Regions from separate parts of the Homo sapiens genome. Here all the other regions are linked to region 1. The links come from fine-mapping of genetic effects on plasma protein levels. A gene starts in region 1. Each other region holds a variant in brackets. All regions are shown on one strand. Distances are from middle to middle.

Region 1 (5,268 bases):
TGGTAGAGATAAATGTCTGAATGGATTGGGTTCAAGAGACTAGCAAACTCCTGATGCGTCTTACAGCTACAGCAAGATAATTAAAGATAACCTAAAAAAAAGGTGGAGGGTAAAAGCTGGGAGAAGAAGAGAATAATAATACCTTTCCAAATACATCAATCAATTGCAAAATATTTTATTGTGCATCTTCTATACATCCAGCAGTATTAGTCACTGACATCAATGAATTTGTAGCTTCATTTATTCATTTAGGCAACTATTATTCATCAAATGTTTAGTATGTGATGGATATTTAATGGGTATAGCTTTAAAATATTTTTCTCAATTGTTAGCATAACATTTTTTCATTTTTAATTATTACGGGTACATAATAGGTGTATATATGTATGGGTGACATGTGATGTTTTGATACATGCATACAATGTGTAATAATCACATCAGGGTAATGACAACAGGGTGTCATCACCTTGACCATTTGTCACTTCTTTGAGGAACATTCCAATTTCACTCTTACTTATTTTAAAATGCATAATTAATTATTGTTGACTGTAGTCACTCTGTTGTGCTATCAAGTGCTGGGTCTTATACATTCCAGCTAATTATATTTTTGCAACCGTTAACCATCCTCCCTTCCCCACAACTCCCTTGCCTCTGCTACTCTTCCCAGCCTCTGGTAACCATCATTCTACTCTCATATCTCAGTTCCTTTGTTTAATTTTTAGCTCCCACGTGTGAGTGAGAATTTGCAAAATTTGTCTTTCTGTGCTTGGTTTATTTCACTTAAATGTAAAAGGAAAAAGAGATGTTTCTATTTCTGTAATCCTAACATATCAACATTTTTTCACATTCCTTTCAATTGGTGTTCATCTCTCCACAACTTTTACTCAACCTTATTTTGTAAGCCTTTTTCTTTGTAGACATATTTCCATAATATGATAGTTATGATGCAAATATTTTATTCTGTGCGTAGACAGCGTTGGTTAACTAATCATTTTCATTTCCAACCATTTATATTGTGTTCAAACTACAATATACTATGAATATTTGTCTATATGATTATTCATCTTAATGTTATCTTCCTTAAGCTATGAGTAGCCCTTCAATGTCCGGGAATATACATCTGGTTCAATTCTGAATTACTAGCATCTGTTTGGCTTCTAGGTAGTACATGAGACTGAGTAGCGGCTGAGAGCATGAACGTCGAGTGTCTCTAGTCTCATTTTGTATTCTCCACTTGTAGGCCTGTAGCCTTGGTCAAGTTATTTAAATTCCCTTTATCTCCTTTATGAACTGGAGATAATAATAGCACCCTCCAGGTTGTATTGAGGGTTACCTGAATTAATATACACAAAGTCCTTATGATTGCACCTTTTTATTTTGTAAGCACTGTGTAAATGCTTCAGTGTACTATATATATATAAAAGTCTGTGCCCAGAATATATTTAAGGAATGAATAATAAATCAGAAAATGTTTTATTGTTGCTTCATACAGGTAACATTTTAAATTCTTTTGGATTATTTTCTCTTTGGTTCAGTGACAATGTTGTGAGCAGGTGCTGGGTCCCAGGTATCCTGAGATAAATAAAAATTTTGAGCAATTAATTTTCATAAGTGATGTCAAGAAGTAAAGTATCATGAACATTTCTATGGCTCCAATTACACTGATATTTCACCTTAGGAACTGAAGCTCCGCCAGGGCAGGGGCAGCCTCTGAGTTTCGTACTGCTGTGCACCTTTAGCAGCACGGGCACCTGCTGGTTTCATTTCCTTCCCACTCACCTGGGCCCTTTTCTTATTTCACATCTTTTTTCTCCTTTTCCTTAAATGCTTTCTCTGAATCTTGATTCTTGAAAATAAATTAGTAGGATTCAGTTAGGTAGGAGGAGGAGAAAAGAAGATGTGATGAGCAAGAAGATGTGCGAAGACTCGTCAGTCTGGTAGGTGGCTTTGGTTAGGGGGTTTCAGAAATGGGGACAGGTCATGAAGGGCCTTGCCAGTCAGGAAAAATCATGAGGCACTAGCAGTAGGAACACAGCAGAAGGTGCCTGAACAAGAGAGATGACTTAATGAAAGCCTTTATAACGCTTCCCGGGATATATTACAGACTACCATCTACAGTGGCAGAGGGCAGCTGAAGGAAGGCTCTTGCAAAAACTTGGGGAAATGGAAATGAATGAAGGCAAATATTTGTTTTGAGATTATTTCCTTCTATGTAACCTATTAGTTCTTTTATTCGTTCCCCATACATGTATTGAGTGCCTACTTTGTGCCAGGCACTGTGCTAGGCAATGGGTATATTACCAGTGGACAATACAGATTTAGTCTTGCTGTCATGTCCTGTTGCTTGCTCATATGAATGTCAGTTCAAGACAGCAAGAGCTCAGGACTGCGGAGATCGCATCTACATCCTGCCGCGCTCTGTGCCGGCACAGGGTGGTTGCGAAAATCGTGCAGTCTGAATTGATTCAAGGCCTTGCAGCATGATTGCTAAATACGTCGAGACAGGAAGAAAGGGCAGGGTGGCACCGATCTCAACTGCGAGAGCACGATCTTGCAATGAGCGCATGTGTGCGCCTCGGTGTGTAGTGAGGGGCGTAGCTTCCCACAGCGCCTGGCAGCGTGCCGAGCTGCGCTGCAGGACTAACCCTCTCCTTTCCCCGCGCGCTCAAGCCCGCACAGGCGGTGGCAGGGAGCCGAAGGGGCCGAGCGCAGCCTTGCATCCGTCCGCAGGCGGGCCCGGCGCCGCGCCTCCTGGCGGCGGGCGGGACCGTCCAGGACGCCGCCCCGCGGCCGCAGCTCCTGGAAGCCCAGAGCGCCGGTGGATCGCGAGCCAAGGCGGCGGGTGGAGCCTGAGCCGTGAGGCCGTGGCCAATCGCGCCGCTCCGGGGGAGGAGCCCCAAAGGGGGAAAAGAAAGTGCGGCGGAAAGTAAGAGGCTCACTGGGGAAGACTGCCGGGATCCAGGTCTCCGGGGTCCGCTTTGGCCAGAGGCGCGGAAGGAAGCAGTGCCCGGCGACACTGCACCCATCCCGGCTGCTTTTGCTGCGCCCTCTCAGCTTCCCAAGAAAGGTGAGTCTCGCGCCGCCGTGAGGGCTCAGAAGTCACCAAGCCGCAGAATCTCAGGGTAGACGGATTCTTAGAGATCCTATCGTTAAACCCTCCTACTTTACAGAAGAGGAAACTGAGGCACAGAACGAGGCAGCGGCTGGGATAGGTCATACTGCTAGTTAGGACTGGAGCCCGGATTCGAACCCAAACGTTCAGAGACCCATCTTTGCTTTGCAGGGATTTAAGTAACGCGGTTGTGGGACGTCTGCTCGTTGCCGCCCCCATCCTCAGCCCTTTGAGGGGTCTACCCTTGTTTTCCTCCTCACCGCCCCCTCCCCGCTACCACCCCCCGCCCCCATCTCCTCCTTGGTTTCTCCAGACCGCTGCTGGAAGCGCCGAGGACAGAAGGAAGCGGTGTGTCCCAGCACGCCCACTCGGTATCACGTCGCTCTCAGCGCAGAGCTGTGACAGCCTGGGAAAATGCTGCTTGCAGCCTCACTCCCTCTTCCCCTGACCTGCTTTCTCAGAAAGATGCCCCTTCAGAGGGTGTCGGACCAGCTTCTGGAGGAGCGCGGGGAGAGAGGAGCGAGGCCCGGGCGCCAGTGACCTCCTATGGTACTGTTTCTTCCCAGCCCCGGAGGAAGCGGAGCTAGTGGCCCTGTGGGGCACAGGGTGCCCCTCACTTGGGAAGAGCTGACTTCATGGAACCATAGAGCCCCTTCCCTCTTCTAAATACTGAGAGGGAGCAAGGAAGCTGAGTTAAAGAGAAAATCACAAACATAAAAGCAAACTTCGGCTGTTTCCTTTAAGAGCTAGCCCACAGCCTGTCTTCCCTCCACCTTCTGGTTGTGAAATTGTGAACCAGGGCGCCACGCGAAGCATTCTGCTGCTCTGCTGTACAGATCCCTGGTTTAGCTACTGGATGAGAAAGAGGACTTGAGTTTTGACTCCAGCTCTTCCATGTATTAGCAGTGTGAACTTGGGCAAGTTATCTCACCTTTCCGATACTGGGTTTTTCTTTTCTTTCTTTCTTCCTTTTTTTTTTTTCCAGCCAAAAAATGGAGATTTATAATGGTCACAATGAGCCCTTTGGGTAGTTGGAAGGATGAAATGGGATCATTCAAGTAGCATGTTTAGCACAGTGCCTGGCCTGGCATCTGGTTGGTTCAAAACCAATGGCAACTATTGTAAATATTGTTACATAGTAACCTTGCAGACAGTGGGTTTTCAGAAAGGTGATTTCATACCATCTTACAGAGGCATTTTAAAAAAATCTGTAAATGTGGTGTCTTTCTTCTTTTGAATTTGAGCAACTCTTTTATAATAAGAATTTTCTGAATGTTGTCCATATGTGATGTGGATCATGGATGCTTAGCTCGAAATGTAAAATTGATGTTTCTCGGTGATATGAATTTCCTACTAGTTTTTAGGTCAAACCTCAGGCCTGTGAACTGCCCTGATCTGAGACATCCTTTATTGACAAAGAGGGTCTTGAAATGGGTGAGAGGCAGAAAGACAAGAAGACAAAGTTGGAAGTTGCAGCTGTGTTACAGATTATTCTAAGCCTTCTATCCTTGCTCTCTTAGGTCAGTCGAGCAACCTTACATTTTTCATCTAGTATCAGAAAACAAACAAAATTCTCATATATTTCTTTTGGATTGTACAGAGATGCTGCTAAATGCAAACCTTTCTGGACACAAACTTGCCTTATTTAAACACGAACACACAGACATTCACATGCCCACACTAGTCTTCCTGTATTATTGGTATTTTAAAGTTAAATGGATTCCCTCCCACACCCTTAACCCTTCTCATGACAATTGATTTTATTCTGATGAACTTCATGCAATAATTTACTACTATCTACTGGCTTTGCCATGCGTCCTTAAATTGAGTGTCCAGCATTTGTAGTTGGCTGCCTCCTTCACAGGCCATAGCATTTGTATGCAGTATTGGTAAGTGCTTGAGAACAGAGTGTGATACATCTTGATGGAAGATAAGAGCCCAGTGGTGCCCACTTAAGTACCTCCCGCACCAAGCATTAGTAAAGGATGGGATCACCTGCTTCTATCAGCTTGTTCCATGTACATGCATTGTGGTGAGCTGGCTGGGATATGACTGAATGTGTGCCTGAGAGACAGGGGCCTTGTGGGGGAAAAGGAAAATGTTCAAAATAAGGTCAGATCATGAGGATGGAAGGGAGATTAAAAGCTAATTCCTTT
Region 2 (5,000 bases), 120 kb after region 1:
TTCTCAATTTTGCTAATTTTTTCAATGAACATATTTTTATTGATTTTTCTCTGTTGTTTATATATTTATTTACTTTATTCATATACTTATTTTCCTCTTTTTGCATACTTTGCACTTCATTTTCTTTTTGTCAGTCATCCTAAAATGTAAGCTGTATCACTGATTTTTAAGTAATTCTTCTTTTCCAATATAAGTATTCTGAGCTATGTGTTTTCCTCATAGGATTAGTTTAACTAAATCCAACAAATGTTGAAATGTCGAGTTTTTGTTATTATTAAGTTCAAAATACTTTCTAATTTCTGTTTTCATTTCTTTTTGACCTAAGGGTTATTTCAGTGTGTGTTTTTTAATTTAAACATGCTTGGAATTTTCCAGATCGTTTTACTACATTATATATGAAAATTCATTTGAATTTTAGAGTTGGCTTTATGTTCACTCTTGATAGTTATTTGTAACATTTCATATTGTCATTTAAGTTTAGCTAATGTAAAAAATTAGAAAAAAAGTCTGGGAGCAGGTATCTCCAACTTAGAACTACCTGAGAGAACTACATTACGGAGTGGAGAAACATAGGTTTTTGTTCTAGATAGACCTGGGTTCAAGTTCCGGACTCAGTGCTGGCTGTGTATATGAACTAGTACAAGCCTTCCTTTTCTTATCCTTCAGGTTCAATTTCCAGGGTATCTGTGAAAACCGAGGGAATGGGGAATGAGAGCTTTGCCACAGTGCTGCACACTTGATTCTAATTTCTAATCTTTTATTTAATTCTGATGTGTCCAAAGAACATACTTTGCATGATTTTATTCTTTTTAAGCTTATTGGTACTTAAAAAAAAAGTATTTGCAGACTGCCTATCTTGGTAAATGTTTGATATGCATTTGAAAAAGACATATATTTTGTAGTTTCGAGTGGTGTCCAGTAAATGTCAACTAAGAAAATTGGTGTCAGTGTTGTTCATGTCTTCAATATCCTTCTGATTTTTCCAATATACTTTGTTATTCAGTTATTAAAAGAGAGAATGGTGTTGAAATCTTTACATATAATATGGATTTTTCCAATTCTCTCTTCAGTTCTGCCAGTATTTGTCTCATGTATTTTGGAACTGTGATATTTAATACATGCTTATTTAGGATTGACAAGTCTTTTTCATGAATTGACTCTTAAATTGTGAAATGTCCGTTTTTTCTCTGTTAATACTCTGTGTCTAATATGAATGTAGCCATTCCAGCTTTCTTTTTTTTTACTTTTTTAATTAATTAATTTTTTTTTGGTAGAGGGACGGAGTCTTGCTCTGTCGCCCAGGCTGGAGTGCAGTGGTGCGATCTCAGCTCACTGCCAGCTTTCTTATAATTAGTATATGTTTTTTCCATTATTTTATTTTACCTATCAGCATCTTTATGCTTTTATACTTATACTTTATACTTAATGTATGTATCTTATTTACAGCATATTATTGGGTATTGGATCCAATCTGATCATTTCTGGCTTTTAACTTGAATGTTTAATCCATTTTTCTTTAATTATTAATATGACTGCCTTTAAGTTTACCATCTTGCTATTTGTTGTCCACCTGTCTTTATTTTTATCTCCTCTAGACTAATTGGTATTTTCATTGTATTTTATTTTATCACTTTTTTGAGCTTTTGGCTCTTCCTTTTTGTTTGGGGCTTGTTTTGTTTTGTTTCCTCTAGAGTTTATAATATTTTTCCTAAACTTATCAGTTGATCTTGAATTAATCACTTTACATATTTTATGAGAAACTTACTATGGCGTATTTCCATTTCTTCCCTCCCATCCTTTGTGTTGTGCTATAATACATTTTGGTTTTGCATGAATTACAGTGTACCAACATGTATTGTGAAAGTTTGGCTTTAAATAACTGTCTTCTATTAAGTTAAGAACTGATCTTTTTTTAAATTTATTTGCTTATTTTTTATTTCTGACACTATCCATTCTTGGTAACATTTTAATCTGAAGAACTATTTAATGTTTCTGGTACATCTGCTGGTGACAAATTCTCTCAGCTTTGTTTTAATCTGAAAATGTCCTATTTCATTTTAATTTTTATATTTCAAAACTTTACTAAGAAAGTTTTCAAATATATGGAAGATTTTAAGGAATTACACAGTGAGCAGTAATACAGCCTACCTAGATCCTACCATTAACATTGGTTATCTTTGCTTTATCACATGTCTATTCATTCTTCTGCCAGTATATCAATCCATCTTATTTTCTGATACATTTCAAAGTAGATGCAGACATCAGTAAACATTTAAGCTCCTTATCATTATCAGTGTTTTAATATTTATTTGTAGGTTTCTTTTCTAGGTAAAATTTGCATAAAGTAACAAATTGCATAATTCAAGTGTACCATTTGATAATTTTTGAGAAATGCATATATATATGCATTACCTAATATCCTATTAAGATATAGAATATTACCATCACCAGAAAGTAACATTCTTCCCCTTATCAGTCAATCCTTTCTACCCCCACCTTCCCCACCTCCCCAAACAATACAACTGTTTTTATTTCCTTTTTTAGAATAGTTTTTTTTTTATATATTCTAGAACTCTG[T/C]GTATGTGGACCCATACAGAATGCGCTACTGTATAACTGTACCTTCACTCAGCAAATGTTCTTGATATTCACCCATGCTGTTGTGTGTATCAGGCATTTTCTCCTTTTGTTTGCCATGGAGTGGTTTTGTTTTGTTTTTGTTTTGTTTAAGAATGCAGAATGATTTGTTTATTCATTCTCTGGGTGGTGAACATTTGGGTTGTTATCAGTTTTGGGGTCTTTTGAATAAAGCTTCTGTGAACTTTCTTATCCAAGTTTCTTAATGGACTACCGCTTTTACTTCTCTGAGATGAATACCTATGAGTGGAATTACTGACTTAGTTTTATCAGAAACTGTTAGACCTTTTTTTTTCCCCAAGTGGCTGTATCATTCCATATTCCACCATCAACATATTTACATCTTAAGGATTTGGTGTTGTCAGCCTTCTTTGTTTTAGCAATTATAGGTGAGTGTATGGTGGTATCTTACTGTAGTTTAATTCTTCATTTCCCTGATGTCTCAAAATACTGAGCACTTACACCTCATGTGCTTATTGGCCATCTGTATGTATTTTTTGATGTGACTGTTCAAACATTTTGTTCATTTTATAAATAGTTTGTATTTTATTATTGAATCTTAGCTGTTCTTCATCTGTCCTGGATACCAGTCCTTTGTCAGACACATGTTTTGCAAATACTTTTCCCCAGTCTGTTGCATGACAATTTGTTTTTTCGTGAAGTGTTTTAATGAGCAGAGGTTCTCATTTTTTATGAGATGTAATTTATTAACTTCTTCTTTAATGATTATTAATTTCTGTGTTCTAAGAAAGCTTTGCTTACCCATAGTCAGGAAGGTTCACCTTTGTTTAGGCCTATAGTCCATCTCTTTTCTTTTTTTTCATGAATGGTGTGTAGTAGAAATTGAAGTTCAGTTTTCCTTTCATACCGATATCCAGTTGTTCCAGCACAATTAATTGGAAAGATTTTTACTTTCTCATTATGTTTCTCTGGTGCCTTTGTCAATATTTTCACAGGATATGTTGAAAGTGTATCTATTTCTTTTCTTTCAGCCCTTTAAGGTATTCCATTGTCTCCTGGCTAATATTATTTAAAATGCAAACGGGGCAGTTTTTGTTGCTGCTGTTGTTCTTGTTTATTTTTGTGCCCTTTATGTATTTGTTATGTTTTTCTTTGGCAGATTTTAAGATCACCTTTTCTTTATTGATTTTGAAAATCAAATTATGATGGCCTGTGGTGTCCTTTGTGTGTGTGTGTTTCTTACTTAGAGTTTATTAAACTTCTCAGTTCTATGTGTTTATATTTTTCCTTTACTGTGAACAATTTTCAGCCATTTTCTTTTCAAATATGTCTAGCTTTCCCCCTCACTCTTTCTCTTCTTTTAGTACTCCAGCTGAAATTAGGATAGACCACTGCTATCCAATTAGTAGTGCCCCACAGATCACTGATCTCGTTATTTTTATTTCTTCCTTTTTCATCCTTTTCCCTGCTCTGTGTTTGTGTAGTTTCCAATGTATGCTGGCCATTTTCTTTGTGATGTCTAATCGATAGCATTTTCTTTATTTCAGAATTGTATCTTTTAGCTTTTGAATTTCCATATCTTCATTGAAAGGTCCCTATTGATATTTTCTATTTGCTGTTCACAATGTTCATGGTTTTAAAAAAATTGAACAAATACACATAGAATACTCATTTTTAGGTGTTTATCTGATAATTCCACCACTTTTGTCAATTTTTGTTCTGTTTTGATTAGCTATCTTTTTATTAGCTAATATAGACTTTTTTGCTTTTTTATATAGCTTTTTAAAAATTATATGCTGGATATTATGGATGTTACAATTTTGAGTTCTGAATTTCGTAAGACAGTGTTAAATTTTGTTCTAGAGGGTAATTAAATTACTTGCATAACTGCTTGCTTTTAAAAAAGCATCTTATCTTTGTTAAAGCAGGTCTAAAATAGCCTTTTCTGTAAGGTTAGATTGGACCTACTTCTAAAGCATGTCATACCTGAAGTCTCTAATTAATACTGGGGAGCTAAACACAGTCTCTTCACTCTGAGTGGCCTGTACCCAACTGTCTCACAGCCCTTCATGTGCTCCTAGAGTTGATCTGTTCCCAGCTATTCTTTGCCTAACCTTTTAAAGTATTCCCCCAAATATGTGTAGCTTTGTATTTGGCCGAAGACTCGAGATAATCCTGTGCAGATTTCTAGAGTTCCATCTCTAAATAGTTCTCTTCTCTATAAATGCAATCTGACTCAACAGCAGCCTTGAACTCTCATTTCTATCTCTTTAGCTCAGTGTGACCACTTTCTCATTTTGGCTTTCCCTTCTCTGTGCCACAGTTTAAAAGGTGCCTTTAATCGAAAAGCCAGAGTGATCGTAGCATTTACCTCTTTTTTGTCTTTTCTCTCACAGATCACATTC
Region 3 (5,000 bases), 67 kb after region 1:
AAATGAAATTACTTATTGTCTGACTGTATTTCAATCTAATTAAATTTATAATTGGAAGTAAAGGGTAACTTAATTTTTAGAAGTAAGAAAGTATATAGATCTGAGCTGTTGTATTCCTCGGGATGGCAAGCAAGAGGCAATTGTGACAGGTATGATAGTTTAAGCCTTGGCTCTTTGTTTCTGTCTGTAAATTGGTATGTTAATAACTTCTCTAGCACAGAGGTAACTTCAATATTCATGAAATGACCTCAGTAGAATACTAAATTAGAAACTTTGTAATGGAAAATAGATATTACCATAGATTTTCCTGCATTATAACCATGGCTTGTGTTTGTGTATTTGTTAGCATGTTGTGTCAAGAAAATAAGCATTAGCTACCCAAATACTTGGAATTTGAAATTAGCAACTCCCCACTTTCCTCCATCAGTCTACTAATATTGGATACTGTATTAGTCTGTTCCCAAGTTGCTAATAAAGACATACCCAAGACTGGGTCATTTATAAAGCAAGAGAGGTTTAATGAACTCACAGCTCCACATGGTTGGGGAGGCCTCAAAATCATGGAGGAAGGTAGAAAAGGAGGAGCAAAGGCATGTCCTACATGGCAGCAGGCCAGAGAGCGTGTGCAGGGGAACTGCCCTTTATAAAACCATCAGATCTCATGAGACTATCATGACAACAGCATGGGAAAAACCCGCACCTGTGATTCAATTACCTCACACTAGGTCCCTCCCATGGTATGTGGGGAGTATGGGAGCTACAATTCAAGATGATATTTGGGTGGGGACACAGCCAAACCATATCAGATACTTAGCCCTAAACCTATCTATACACCCTGATTCTTACCAACTTTATCTACTCATTTAAACATATCTCTTTGTTACAGGCAGCTTTCTGTTTTGTTTGTTTTTGGTTTTGTTTTTAAAAGCTCAGTACTACAGAACATAGTAAGCTAGTTATCAACATTTCCGTATCTGTAGGCATGGTTATGCATGTGTTAAATTAATACTTCTTCCTTCAACCATCAGCCTTTCTTCATTTCTCTATGCAATAAACATATGTTGTATTGGGCTTACACTGTGTGCTAGATACAGTTCACATTATCATTATATTCACTAACCATTACAGGGATGAATGATATCATACAGTATTTACAGTATTAAAATGGTTATATTATTTGATCTTAGAATAGCATTGTAAAATATATTATTATTGTCACTTCACAAATAAGGAAATAGAGGCCCGGAGAGATTAGGTGGTTTAGACGTAGTTTTGCATATAGGAAGTAGAACCAGGACTCAAGGTTTTGTCCTCTGTTCCCAAGCCCATTATTCTTTTTCCTGGCAGACCCAAGGGATTCCTACCTTTTTATTACTGAGGACATCTTTTATTTTATATTTTTTCTAAAGATTCCTTTTATTGCAAGCAATAAAACCAGACACATTAGTCGTGCTGCCATCACAACAATCTAATTTTAGAACATTTCATCACCCCAAAACGAAGCCCTGAGGATTAGCAGCCAATCCACAACCCATTCTCCCCCACCCAAGCCCTAGGCAACCAGTAGTCTACTTCCTGTCTCTATAGATTTGCCTATTCCGGATATTTCATACAAGTGGGATGATATTATATGTGGCATATTGTGATTGATTTAGTTTTCACTTAATGCAATGTTTTCAAGGTACAGCTATGATATAGCATGTATCACTACATCATTTTTTAGTGATGAATAATATTCATCATTGAATCATAATTGAGAAATATTCTTCATCCCTGATGCACCTGTGTGTGATTTCCAAATTTTGACTATCATGAATAATGCTACTATGAACATATGTGTACAAGTTTTTGTGTGGACATATGTTTTCATTTTTCTTGGGTATATAGCTGTAAGTTGAATTACTGGATCAAGGTAACTCTATGCTTAACATTTTGAAGAACTGCCAACTACGTTCCAACGTAACTGTGCCATTGTAAATGTCTTTTTGAAGTATTTTGAAGTATATACCTATTTGAGGTATTTGCACTCTCATATTCAACTGAGAACATCTCCTGTGAGTATCTCATGTTCAACTGATTTCAGCTCTTGTGTATCTCGTGTTCAACTCTTATGCTCAACTGATTTCAACTCCAATGAATATCTACCAAGAAGTGGGACTGCTGGATGAAATGCTACTCTCATTTTTAATTATTTGGCAAAACTTCCATAGTGTTTTTCCAGAATGGATAAAGAGAATGCATTATATCATACAATTGAGTGTCAGTCAGCCCTAAGAAAGGAGGAAATCCTGCCATATGCATAGACCTGGAGGACATTATGCTAAGTTAAATAAGCCAGGCACAGAAGGACA[G/A]ACACTACATGATGCTATTTACATGAGGAATCTAAAATAGTCAAACTCATAGAAGCTGGGAGTAGAATGGTGGTTGCCAGAGGCTGAGAAGGGGGAGAAATGGAGAGGTGTTAATCAAAGGGTGCAAAGTTTCAGTTACGCAAGGTAAGTCCTAGAAATCTACTCTACAGCTTAGTGCCTATGGTTAACAATTCTGTATTGTATACTTAAGAACTCGCTAGGAAATTAAATGTTACATAAAGTGTTCTTATCACTAAAATAATTAATACATAAATGAATACATAAATAGGGCAGGAGGAAACTTTTAGAGGTTATGTGTATGTTTATGGCATAGATTGTGATGATGGTTTCTTGCCCGTGTATATATCTCCAAACTCCTCACTTTAGGCACATCAAATATATACAGCTTTCTGTATGTCAATCATACCTCAGTAAAGTGGTTTTTAAAAAAGAAACAGCAGAAGAGGTCATTGTGAATTCAGAGGTCTTCAGAGGACTCAGCCCTTTAATCTCTGATTCAGTAAAGTGGCATTCGAGTGTTTCCTTTTTTGTTAGTGTAACAAATATAAATCTCAGTGCTATGGGAGCTCAGAAAGTGTTCTGGATCAGAACATGCCCTGGGTAATTCACAGTGTATAAGGCAGAGAAGAAAAACCTGGACTCAAGTCAAATCCTGGTTTCCGTATGACTCTCAGTGTCCTTATCTATAAAATGAAGCTGATAGTATCAGCCCTGCATACCCCACAGAGCTGTTTTGGAGATCCAGTGAGAGAATGAATCTAAAGTTTTCTGTAACCAGTAAAAGCAAATCAGGAAGCAGAAGCTCAGTCAAATGAGCCTAGAAACCACACACTTGGCAGGTAGGTAAGCACCAGTTGGTGCTCTGTATTATGAGATTAGGACTGAGACCTTTTACATTCGAAGCTGGGTGCTTGCCGACAAGAATCCGTATTTCCAAATGTGAGCAAACCCTTGCCCAGCAGAGTTTTCACAAAATCCAGATGTTGAGTTTTGTGTCAATTGTTTAAGAATTCAAAAGCAGATAGTAGCATATTTTTCAAAATCAGTTGCTTGACAACCAGTTTATGGTCCTATGATTCTCTGCCACCTTCCCTGGTTTTGACGACTCTAAATCAGTTGAAACTTGTATTATTTTTCTATTGTATTTTTCAATATATTTGCCAAAGAATATGGGAAAAGAAACTTTATTCATTCAACAGCCATTGTTTGAGGTATTTCCATGAGCCAGGTATTTGATAGGCATTAGGATATGGTGAAGAACAAATAGTCCCTGTTCCTTTCTTCATGCTCGTTTGTGTCTCATATGTCTAACTGTTTCAGGGTCCCTGCTATTCACCGTGACTCACAGATGGCACCAATACTGTGTTTTAAAAATGAAAAGCAAAGTGGAGGTCAAAGTTAGGTTCTAAAAAAAATAAAAATGAGGAATAACATAAGGAGGATAAAAGATGTTGAGGCTGCAGTTCAGTTCTGTTGCTAATTTACTGGGTGATTTGGGCAAGCTACTTAACCTCTCAGAATCTGTTTCCACATCTGTTAATTTGCTTAGTTCTTGACTCTAACAAGCTAGCATTCTGTAGTTTGAGATTTAAGAGCCTCTGAAACAAGTTTCCTTTCTATTTCTTTACATTTTTGATCAATCCATCTTTGCTCATTTTCCATGTGGCTCTTATCTGCTCCTCTCCATCTTAAGTATTATCCTAGTCCAAGCCACATCATCTCATTCTTGAACTTTTCTTTTCTTTTTTTTTTTTTTCATTTGAGATGGAGTTTCACTGTTTTTGCCCAGGCTGGAGTTCAGTGGCACGATCTCGGCTCACTGCAACCTCCACCTCCCGGGATCAAGTAAGTCTCCTGCCTCAGCCTCACACATGGCTGGGATTACACGCGTGCGCCACCACCCAGGCTAATTTTGTATTTTTAGTAGAGATAAGGTTTCACCATGTTGGTCAGGCTGGTCTCAAACTCCTGACCTCAGGTGATCCACCCGCCTCGGCCTCCCAAAGTGCTGGGATTATAGGCTGAGCCACCCTGCCTGGCACATTCTTAAATTTTTCTGCAGTAGCCTCATAATTAGCTGTTTCTCCTTCACTTTTACTCTCTACAGTCCATTCTTCACACAGTAACCAGTGTTACCTATTTCAAATTGTAAATTAAATCAGGTGTCTCCTCTGTGGAAAACCCTGGAATATGTCCCATTATTCTTAGAATTAAATTTAAGTTCCTTACAGCGGCCTATATGCTCTTATATGTTCAAATTCCTACCTGTTGCTTCAGCTTCTTCATATTCCACTGTTTTCCTTGCCCCTGGCAGTGAAGTTTTCTGAGATTCTTCAGGAACTTCACATGTACTATTCCCTTTCTCACCTAAGTTCTTCCTTCACACACTCTCCTCTCAACTTTGTCCCTCACATCTTCATTCTATTTCACTCAGCTCAAAAGTCCATTTCTCAGGGAACATCCCATCTCCTGCCCTAATCAGCGACCTCTCAGGCTAAGTAAGATCCCTGTTAATATATCCACTTTATACGCTGTACGTCTTTTTCATGATAATCACTCCAATAGCAATTGTTGTTAATTGGGTAATTATTTATTTAACTACTTAATTAATGTCTGTGACCTTCTCTA
Region 4 (5,000 bases), 130 kb after region 1:
TAGCATTAATGACTCCTTTTTATCAAGATTGCTCTACAAAATACAGTCTGTAAATATGACAAATGACTGTATGACACAAAACAGAATTAAAATGCCCCATTAGAAATAAAATGGGCAGTAGTAAAATGAATGAGGCAGGGGAAATTTATGAGGGTAATTGATCTCTCGGTCATTAAGCAGGCTCTCTATTGGCATTTAACAAAAATCCATTTCAGGTACGTGCAGCCAGCAACAACCTCCACCCCCATTACAAAATGTTCATCCAGAGAGAGCCAAAATAACTGAGCAAATAATGAAAATAACAGTGGAAATTACCCTGTTGTACTGTTAACATAACGTACTCAGAAATACCAAGGACACAGTGATTTTCATGCCAGCTATCCAAATAGATCTTAGTAAACTTTCAGCAACTGCACTAACACAGCTTCTGGAATTTATGATGGAGTTTTCTTGTTTTAAGGTGCCATTATTCATGGAAGGAGTAGAAGAGTACCTGGTAATAATTTTGCACTGCTAAGTCCCAGGCTATACCTGTGGCAGGATTAATATCCCCAGTTTAGGATAATAAAATCAAAACTCTATGATTCACCCTTTAATAAGAGAACTTCAGGTTCAGCTCCAGGCTGCTTACCATTTTCTGCTTTGAATAGATGCCTTTTTAAAAAGTGATTTCCTGGATGTGAAGCTGATCTGCCTGCAACATCTGTCACCCCATTGATCACCAGGGTAGATTCAGCTTATCTGGCTGGCTAAGCGGGTGTCCCCTTCCTCCCTCACTGTTTCACGTGACTCCTTCCCGAAGCTGCGCACTCAGTGGAAGAGGACGACCATCTGCAATAGAGGGGGACTGGTCTTTTGTCAAGGGTATAGGAGTAGCTGTGCTCCCCTGCTAGAACCTCCAAACAAGCTCTCAAGGTTCATAAACGTGATTCTATTTCAACTGTTGTATGATCAATAATTGAGCTTCATCGTGATGGTGTTCAAAGATCCCCGCACTTTGGAGTCAGGGAGCCTCTACAGCAATTCCAGCTTGGAATGAGATTCTTCTAAGCTGTGTCTCAGCAAACATTTAACATCTACAATGTTCTAGGTGCTTACAGAAGCCTTCCCTCACCACCTTATGCAGTACACCGCCCTTGCCCCAGTCCCACCCTTCAATCACCTCTATCACATTACCATGGTTTATTTCTCTTATAGCACTAATCACTATTTAAAATTAACCAGCTGATTTATTTCTTTACATATTTACTGCCCTGAATTAGAATATTAGCCACAAAAGGGCAGAGACCCTTTCCGTCTTATTCACCATTGTATCCCCAGAAGCTTCTGGCAAATGGTAGATGTCAATAGATAATAATCAAATTGACTAATACACAATTTAAGCCACTCCTGCTTCAGACCCAGTAAATATACTGTTCCTCCTTCAAACACTTAAACTTCATTATCACAAGCTAATAAAGCAACTAAATAAAATTGTGAAACATAATTTAGTAATAGACTTCTAAATATCCCAGAAGTGTAAAATCTTATATGTGGAAATGTTCATTGAGATACTAGGCATTCTAGGGATATCATGGAAGAAAAAGACATAATCTCTACCTGAAAGACTGTAAAGGTATAGTTAATGAGAGGGAGTGAAGAAGCTGACCTGTAGACAAATTACAATATAATAAGTAATGCTGTAATCAAATGATAAACAAAGGGAAGAGTAAAAATTTCTACACGGGAGAGCCAGGTTTCAATAAAAATTTTATTCTATAAAAGCTTATATAAAATAATGATATTCGAGCATAGACTTGGAAACTAAAAAGAGAAAGGACTTCCAGCCAGAAGTCACAGCATGAGAAACGGGCATCATATTAAATCTTCCTGATGTTTTTGATGAAAAAGCAATGGTAAATGAGAAAGGAAGGAAGGTGGTTAGTAATTTGGTTGTGACAGACCTTGATTATAGGGCTAATGAGTTAAGATCTGGTTTTTAAGTACTGGAGAATTACCTCACTCTATTTCTGATACTTCCAAAGAAACTGCAAAGGTGCCTAAAATATAAAAAATAAGTAGATAATGCAGAAATCTGTTCACAATCAGATATTGCAAGTTCACCTCTAGAATATGTACTGAAGAACTGTGAACATGGGAAATAACTTCCAGAACCAAGCATATTCAGCATCTGGTGGATGTCCTTTGCTTTTGCACAGTGAAAATAATGTTTTTGAGGCC[G/T]ATTTCCAAGTAGAAAGGAAAGACAATTAAATTCCTTTCATACTACACTAGACAAGAGAATGAAACTATAGTGGAAAAATATTGAGATTTTTACTCAAATCAGCTGCATCAACAATTAAAATTCTACCAATACCGTGGACTTCTTCAGGTAGCAATGAGAACTCCATCCCAAGATATGGACCGAGGATGGAATGATAATTTTCAAAAATATTTGTAAGGAGGTTTAGGTGTCAAATTGTGACTTGAATTTGATGACCTTCTAAGCCCTTCCTGATGTTATGATTCTGTTTTAATTTATATATTGTCAAAGACTATTCAAATAAAAAACACCTTCTATGCCAGGTGCTGGAAACAAAAAGATAAACATAACACAGTCTAGTATTTTAAAATAGTGCTAAACTCTACAATGTTATCTCTGATTGTTCATACATAGGCAGGTGCATAGCTAAGCTGCTTGGCTTATCCAGCTATTTGCCGGGATGGTGGGTCACTGTGGTCACCACACAGAAATCAATTCTGTTTCTTTGTTGTTCATTCCAGTGCCAGCTCCAAGATACACAGTGGAACTGGCTTGTGGTTTTGGAGCCACAGTCCTGCTAGTGGTGATTCTCATTGTTGTTTACCATGTTTACTGGCTAGAGATGGTCCTATTTTACCGGGCTCATTTTGGAACAGATGAAACCATTTTAGGTAAGTAACAGAAATTTGACATAAACCTCTTCTACTGTCATCTTTAGAACATATGTTGTAAAAAAAAGAAAAAAGAAAACATGTTGATTTGAAAAACCTAGATTAACTGGAAGATTTAAGCAGATTAACTTTAATTTCAACCGTTGCTATTAGAAATCTTTCCGAAGATTATTATTCTATTTTCTTGGATTAATTAGTGAGTCGGTCTAAATTAACACCCTCCAAATAGAAATATAATGCGAGCCACTTACCTACTTAAAATTTCCCAGTGACCACATTAGTAAAAGTAAAAAGAAACAAGTAAAAATAACGAATTGACTAAATATATTTATAATACTATTTTTTAGCATGCAATTAATATTAAAAAGCTAATGAGATATTTTAGTGTTTTCTTTGGTACTAAAAATGTTCAAAATGTAAAATGTATTCTACTTTATCCTTATAGCACATCTCAATTCAAACCAGCCACATTTCGAGTGAGCAATAGACTCGTGACTCGTGGCTGCTGTATTGGACAGTGCTGATCCACACTCCTTGTACTCAGATAGAGATCTGTGAACCAGCAGCAACATATCACGTGTAGCTTATTAGAAGAAGAATCTTAGACCTAGCCCCTACTGACTCAGAATCTACATTTAAACCATATTCCCAAGTGATTCATGTGTACGTTAACATCTGAAAAGCACAGCTCTAGTGCAAATTTGCTTAGTGAAAAGAATAGAGCATTTAAACATACAAATTCATAGGTCCACCCCATAAAGATTTTAATTCAGTAGGCTTATGGAAGAAACACGGAATCGATAGTTTTTAATGAGATGTGATTTTTCTAATTAAGCAACTTCGTGAAAGATTGGTCCATTAAATCTAATTATATTTTTAATTTTAGTTCTTTTCAGATATAAATAATTCAGGCAGTTTCACAAGGTTTTACTCAATTTGTAATTTTAAGATATTAATGAGTGATAGGCTTGGACAGGAAGTTGAAATTTTCTCTACAGTGTTAATTGCCAGTACCTATGATTTACCTTCTGGCTTTGTTAATTTACAGTTGAATGGGACAAACCTCACTCTTTTTCCACTGTAAAGCAACCTGTAAGATGAGAGTTGAGGATATATCAGATAACATTCAAAATTACATCTTCAAATAGTCGTTTTGCGTGGAGACTTGTTGCAAGTAGAAAATCGCACTGGAATCTGTCACATAATGAAAATGTCTAATATGCAGAAGTTAGATTTAAGAAAAATGTAATGGTATTGAGAAACTTTCCTAATTTACATTGTATCTGTGTTCCTTTTGCTAGATGGAAAAGAGTATGATATTTATGTATCCTATGCAAGGAATGCGGAAGAAGAAGAATTTGTATTACTGACCCTCCGTGGAGTTTTGGAGAATGAATTTGGATACAAGCTGTGCATCTTTGACCGAGACAGTCTGCCTGGGGGAAGTAGGTATTTCAGAGGAGTACAAATGATGCTACCTTGAAAGGCAGACAGAATCATTAGTTTTGCATTATGGGAGAGAGTCATGGCACAGCATCTTTGGATATTTAATGTCCGATGCTCTTTGATGTAACAGACTCCTCTAGAAATAAAACTACGTTGGAAATGTATACTATTCAACTCAGTTTATGGTATTAAAATATTTTCCCTTGCAATCTTTCAGAGATGCATGTCAGAAAAGCATGGAGGCACAGTGGATTAGAGCTCTGTTAAAGGGCCATAGCTGTAAACATCCTGTTTATTCACATTTAGATTTTTCGGTTTAGGCTAATCTACACTGGTTGGTCTAGAACTGTTTTACAAGACTGAGAATTTTTTTTTAAAGCAGTTTTATTTTGGTTTTAGAAAGACAGAGGTTTACTTGGTTTTACTAAAAGTGAGTGGCGGAAGAGTGTGGGTAGAATTTTTCCTTATGTGATTCACTGATAATAATTACAGTATTTTCCTGTGGCATTTGCTCTTTTTTTTCCCCCTCACTTTTCTTTTCAAGCAAAATAGTGCTACTCAAATTCCCCTTTTCCTTGGGTCTATTTCTTCTTCCTGTCAGCTTATACATTTGAGGGTTACTTTAAAATTTTATAATAGCCAGT

Which allele goes with the higher level. Alleles are on the strand shown, and positions count from the first base shown. The strength of an association depends on the size of the effect and on how common the allele is.
As copies of C replace T in region 2, the plasma level of the protein whose gene starts at base 2,933 in region 1 goes up (weak association).
With allele A in place of G in region 3, the plasma level of the protein whose gene starts at base 2,933 in region 1 is lower (weak association).
With allele G in place of T in region 4, the plasma level of the protein whose gene starts at base 2,933 in region 1 is higher (moderate association).

The links. PIP is the posterior inclusion probability: the model's chance that the variant is causal. Protein levels are from antibody-based Olink assays in UK Biobank. Linkage for the fine-mapping came from a reference panel and not from the study's own genotypes, which makes the PIPs less certain.
Region 2: its variant is fine-mapped to the plasma level of the IL1RAP protein (UK Biobank, PIP above 0.99).
Region 3: its variant is fine-mapped to the plasma level of the IL1RAP protein (UK Biobank, PIP 0.93).
Region 4: its variant is fine-mapped to the plasma level of the IL1RAP protein (UK Biobank, PIP above 0.99).

The regions. Positions count from the first base shown.
Region 1 is chr3:190,511,153-190,516,420 of GRCh38, forward strand. IL1RAP (interleukin 1 receptor accessory protein) reads left to right here and starts at 2,933. Exons shown (of 12, transcript NM_002182.4): 1 at 2,933-3,067. RefSeq lists enhancers at 2,280-2,369, 3,122-3,623, 3,624-4,123 and a silencer at 2,520-2,869.
Region 2 is chr3:190,635,285-190,640,284 of GRCh38, forward strand. All of the region lies in intron 9 of IL1RAP (interleukin 1 receptor accessory protein), which reads left to right. Among named protein-coding and RNA genes, the nearest start is that of LINC02013, 62 kb to the right of the region's middle. The variant T/C (reference allele first, on the strand shown) is at 2,578.
Region 3 is chr3:190,578,204-190,583,203 of GRCh38, forward strand. The region is part of intron 3 of IL1RAP (interleukin 1 receptor accessory protein); the gene reads left to right. Among named protein-coding and RNA genes, the nearest start is that of IL1RAP, 67 kb to the left of the region's middle. The variant G/A (reference allele first, on the strand shown) is at 2,352.
Region 4 is chr3:190,641,488-190,646,487 of GRCh38, forward strand. IL1RAP (interleukin 1 receptor accessory protein) reads left to right here. Exons shown (of 12, transcript NM_002182.4): 10 at 2,761-2,910; 11 at 4,212-4,355. It also overlaps the pseudogene RN7SKP296. Among named protein-coding and RNA genes, the nearest start is that of LINC02013, 55 kb to the right of the region's middle. RefSeq lists an enhancer at 4,376-4,948. The variant G/T (reference allele first, on the strand shown) is at 2,221.